2 separate regions of the Homo sapiens genome follow, and region 1 is linked to region 2. A link means that fine-mapping ties the variant in region 2 to the expression of a gene that starts in the linked region. Tissue or cell type: whole blood. Region 2 holds a variant in brackets; the other region holds the start of a gene. All regions are shown on one strand. Distances are from middle to middle.

What was found. PIP is the estimated chance that this variant, and not a neighbour inherited with it, causes the effect.
Region 1: AFAP1L2 starts here. The variant in region 2 is fine-mapped to the expression of AFAP1L2 in whole blood (TOPMed, PIP 0.96).

What each region holds. Positions count from the first base shown.
Region 1 is chr10:114,402,968-114,405,649 of GRCh38, forward strand. AFAP1L2 (actin filament associated protein 1 like 2) reads right to left here and starts at 1,535. Exons shown (of 19, transcript NM_001001936.3): 1 at 1,473-1,535. The coding sequence starts at 1,488. RefSeq lists silencers at 690-739, 1,537-1,616 and an enhancer at 1,570-2,070.
Region 2 is chr10:114,281,311-114,283,992 of GRCh38, forward strand. It overlaps VWA2 (von Willebrand factor A domain containing 2), which reads left to right. Exons shown (of 14, transcript NM_001272046.2): 9 at 1,206-1,261. It also overlaps a transcript of AFAP1L2 not described here. Among named protein-coding and RNA genes, the nearest start is that of VWA2, 43 kb to the left of the region's middle. The variant C/T (reference allele first, on the strand shown) is at 1,316.

The sequences.
Region 1 (2,682 bases), 120 kb after region 2:
GCGGAGGGGCCCCAGTAGGGGAGGGAGTGCAAACGGCCATGTTACAAGGAGCAGGACTGTGGCTTCCTCAAGTGTCTGAGACAGCATAAGCGCGCATTCAGTCATTCAAGCACAAAACTGACGTGATCCCAGTAGAATTTGAGAAGAAGAAAACCACCGGGTTAGAAATGCGAGAGAAGCTCCAGGGAGGGTTCACAGAAAGAAATCAAAGGTGGCCAACTCCTTTAACCCTGTCCCCCACGCCGGCTCCCTGCTGTCGGCAAAGACCCTTCCTGAATATATGAAGCTCTGTCTGGGACTTGGATCTTTTGCCTTCACCAGTAACCAGGCTACCCAGATGAGAAAAAGCAATGGGAAAGTGAAAGACAAGACTACTTTAGGGAAGCCGGTCCCAACAGGTCCCTTTATGTCAGTTTCAGGGATCAGAGCCCTCCGGGAGTGAGATTCCTGGGAATCTGAGCGTTCTCTTTTTATTACTCTCTCCCAGGGGAAAACAAATATAGAAGCAGCATTTCCTCCCGCAGGTTTGGCGGAGACCGGTCCAGCAAAAGAGAAGGCAAGAGGCTTTTCCAAAGGGAAGGGGTCTGCAGGAGGATGGGGGAGGGGGGAGCGCCCGCAGGGTTCCTCTTAAGGGGCAACTCCCTGTACTCCCTTTTCAAAAGAACCGCAATCGAGACTTGTAGACCAGCTCCGAGGCTCCGAGTGTGGGTGCTAAGCTGGGCGTCCGGCGCACCCGGGACGGCCCGCCCACCGGGGTTTGGCGGAGATCCTGGCCCCCGCCAAACCCAAAGCTCGCCCAGCTGCGCACTGAGCTAAGCCCTCGGGTCCGGACGCCTCCAGGAGCTCCACCTGCCGGGCACTCCATTCGGCCCCCGACCCTCGCATCCCTCCTTTCTTGGTGTGGGGGAGCAAAGAAGGGCTTGGAGAGAAACGATGACCCGAACGGCAGGACGTTTGGGGAGGCCCCACCTAGCCCGGGGAGGGTCTGCGCGCCCACTCCACTGCCCAAGCGCTTTGCCGGGAGCAGGAAGCCCCTAGCCCGGCGGGCGCCCGGGAGAAAGGACTCAACAGCCCGACCCTTTGCCCCCAGCAGCTCAGCACGGTTCCCACCTTCTTCGGGGCTTCCTCGGCCCCAGGCATCTTTCCTGTGCGGCGGGACTGAGGGTGGAGTGGGGTGCCGGGCTCACCCTCTCTCCTGCAACAGGTGAGAAGCCCCGCCACGCCCCCCACTGACGACCCCCTCCTTCCGCGCCCGGGAGGATCAAAGGGCTCGGGCCGCAGCAGCCACCTAGGAGCCCACCCGCCCAGTCCGCGGCGCCGCTGTCGCCCCCTCTTAGGCCCAGGTCCGGGCTGGGTGGGGGCAGTGGGCTCTGCTTATCCCGAGTCCTGGCAAGACGAGTCCTAGCCCTGCCCTCCGCGTCGCTGGGCGAAAGGGAGTGGGTGTGCGCCGCGCGAGGAACCCGCGCCCTCACCTTTGTACCGCTCCATCGGGGCCACGGAGTGCGCTCCTCGCGGCTCGGCTTCTGCGCTGCTCTCCCGGCGCTCGGCTCAGCGCCCAGGCCGCCGCGCTGGCCCCTCCCCGTGAGGTCACGCTCGCGGCCGGACCTCCTGGCGGGGCCGCCGCGCCCAGGGTCCTCGGACCTGGCCCCCGCCAGGGCTCGCCCCCAGCGCCCCTGTCCCAGCGCCCCTGTCCCAGCGCCGGAGAACTCCGGCCCGCCGAGGCTGACAGTCGGCTCTTGAGTCGGTGCGCGCCCGCGGCCCCGCTCGCCGCCCCCGGCCGCCTTGGCACTCCCTTCACGTCTTGACTCCGGGGGCGTCGAGAGGGAACGAGACTGGGACGTTCCCAAACTCTGGGGGAGGCTCCGGGAGGCCGGGCTTGGGTGGGCCTCCAAGATTGTTCCCACACCCCTGCCCGCTGCAAACCCAATGCCTGGAGGAGGAGACCGAGGTCCAAGCTAGGAGGTTGAGACTGGCTTAGAGCTCCTCGCGCTTGGCTCCCGAGCCAGCGCGCTTTTGCCCTAGGCCTTCCTGGAGGGGCGAGGAGGGCAGCGGGGCGGGCAACCAAACCTGCTCCGGGTTCTTTGGGGATTGCTCCCACTCTCTTGGAACCTCTCTGGGCAGCCGCTGCCAATCGCGCACACTTCAGGGTGTGTGAAAACATCTGCTTGCTGCTTTCTACCTGAATTTCCAGGGCCAACGCCACAAGTCAGGGAGTGCCGTTTCCGGGGCGCCCAGTAAACCTGACCGCCTTGGAGGGGTGGCGCCGGTTCCATAAGGAAGCTCGGCCATGGCTCTGAATCTCCACCCTGCACTGCCTCCATCCAGAAGTGCCACACTTCCATCCTTTGCCTTTTGCCACCGGTCCTTCCAGGCCCTTAATGCGACCTAGTCTTCTCCGTGCTCCCCCCAGAGATCTATGTGTTCTTTTAAACTTTTTCAGTTTTCACTTTAAAATCTCAGTCACGGTTTGTGCTGGGTGCCTGGTTGGTTACCTAAGTTCCCCAGCTTCCTTGAAGGAACAATTAAGGAAGATTTGGCAGTGGTGGTTTTCTAAAAGACTTCTTAATTCTTCCTTGGAATCGCAGATTTAGTTGTGATGTTTGGAGACCTCCCCCAACCCCTCCCAACAGCATGTAGAAATATTTTTCTTAGTTATACTAGCACCTAATGTGGATGGAGCCC
Region 2 (2,682 bases):
ACAGCAGGGCACATGGCCCCGGAGACGCAGGAGAGGCGAGGGTGAGGCCCACAGGGTAGAGTGGGGGGATTTGGAGTCATGGTCAGGGTTTGGATCCCAGCTCTGCTGTGTTCCGGTAATTATGTGACCTCAGGGGCCCTAAGTGAGCCCTCAGAACCCATTTCCCTATCTGGAACATGGAGGGAACCATCTCTTCAGGTAGCTGTGGTTCATGGAACACCAGCAGGTGGAAGCCACCCAAGGAATGGTGGCTGCTGTGTTATCACAGAACGTTAGTTCTCCAGCAGACCTGAGAAGTCATTGAGTCCAGTGGCTTACATGTCTTGACCTGCAGAGCCTCGTGTGGACACTTGTTGTGTGGACCAGATAGTAGCAGCACACCTGGGGTGGAGGGGCGGGGCTGGGGCACTGCGGGAGGCCTGGAGCCTTGCTCCTTCAGTGCTCTTCTCTCCCCATCGAAGCTTTAAGGAATACAGTTGAAAAGTGAAGATAGAATTACTATACAAAGAGGAAAGTGAAGACCAGAGGAGGAAAGTAACATGTCTGTGGTCACACAGCCAAAATCCAGTTGCCCAGTTCCCAATATTTCTCTCCCTACTGCATCGTAAGCCTCAGAAAGTAACTTATAATAAAAAGCTGTTGCTACAGTTTGGGGTTTTGCATGTGGATGTCCCTAATTTCAAATGTGATAGCCAGCTTATGTTACCTTTTTTTTTTGAGATGGAGTCTTACTCTGTTACCCAGGCTGGAGTGCAGTTGTGCAATCTCGGCTCACCGCAACCTCTGCCTCCTGGGTTCAAGCATTTCTGCCTCAGCCTGCTAAGCTGGGATTACAGGCACATGCCACCACGCCCAGCTAATTTTTGTATTTTTAGTAGAGACGGGGCTTCACCATGTAGGCCAGGCTAGTCTCAAACTCCTGACCTCAAGTGATTTGCCTACCTTGGCCTCCCAAAGTGTTGGGATTGCAGGCGTGAGCCACCACTCCCAGCCTATTTTTTTTAATTGTCACTGGATAGTTTGAAACATTCCCTACTCTATGTGCAGAGAAAAGTTAGGGTAGAATCAAGAAACAAAACCAGGAAGTCTTTCTTACTTCTGCATTGGAATCTTCTATCAGCTTTTGGTGTTGTAAATCATCTTCTGTTTTCTGCCCTCCCCTTACACCTCTGATCTGTCTATAATTCTGTTTCCTTGGATTGTAGCTGGAAGAGAGTGTTCCTAACCCACCCTGCCACCTGCTACAGGACCACCTGCCCAGGTATGGTCTGTCTCTTGGATTTACAGGTTCTTTCAGGGCCCTGGGCCCAGGCTG[C/T]TTTGTAAAGTGGCTTTTACAATCCTGGGACAGAGGGTGGGGTTGTGACTGGCTCCAGGGCAGAGGGATGGGGCACTTGGGGGGCAGAGGAGAGTGTGCTCTTGACTCCCTCAATGGTGTTTGCTCATTAAGAATGGAGTGGCGGCTTTGGGATTACTCCCCTGAACCAGTGTTGTGTGCATTGGTGAGAGGCAGAGAGGCAGGCACCGAGCACCAGCTTTGCAGACATCCTCAAAGCCAGCACCAAACTCAGGGCAAGATATCTGAGTGATTTCCTCCTCTATAAAACATAGTGGTTTGTCCGATGTCTGGAAGCCCATTTCCCTCCTCCATGTGAAAGGGGGTCATCGTATATGAGGTCCTAGTGAAGATTCAGTAGATAATGCCCATGGAAGTAATCCCTCAGCTGTAAAATCCCAAATTAACGTGAGGAATCATCGATGCCATTATGCATCATTCAGCATGGTTCACCAGTGTGCCCTCACTATCCCTCACTTGGGGTGCTAGTGACCCCACTGACCTGGGAGCTTGAAATTGCCCTTCAATGTGTAGGTGTCAGTCCTGGGGTGGATTTGTTACTCCCGATGAGTAGCCTGTCTCCCGGAAGCAATGCCGGCAGTTAGACACACAGGCAGGGCAGCGAGCAGTTAGACACACAGGCAGGCAGGGCAGCGAGCAGTTAGACACACAGGCAGGGTAGCGAGCAGTTAGACACACAGGCAGGGTAGCGAGCAGTTAGACACACAGGCAGGGTAGCGAGCAGTTAGACACACAGGCAGGGTAGCGAGTGTCCCTATTTGGGGTTAGGTGATCCCTTCAGTATGTTCACAAGGTTTACAGTTCCAGCACCACGGCCTCTGAAGCACAGGAGAATCTGAGAGTGGAGCTGTTTCTGCTCAGAAATTAGGGTTTGAGGACTTCCGGTTTGGAAACTAGAGTGAAATGGCTTTCAGTCCCAGCTTTGCCTCTTACCAATGATCTGACCTGGGGCATGTGACTTCTATTCATTGAGCTTCAGCTTCCTCATCTGTCATATAGGGTTTTTATAGTTCCTACCTAAGGTTGTGACAATGAAATGGGACCATGCGTGTATTGTGCTTAGCACAGTCCCTGGCACATAATAGATGCTCAGTTAAAGGCCACTGTCGTCGATCTCAGTGAGCCCCCAGCTATTTCCACAGTCTTCTGGCTGATACAACAGCAGCCCCAGCGAAGTGCCTAGACTTAGCCTCAATCTTTTCTGCCTTTGAAAAGTCTATATTTTAATTACAATGATGTGGCCATCAAGAAAGAGATTAATATTTGTAAGCAAAAAGGACAAGAAAATGCCAGTCCCAGTTGTGACCACACTCAGCTGCTTATCCAGC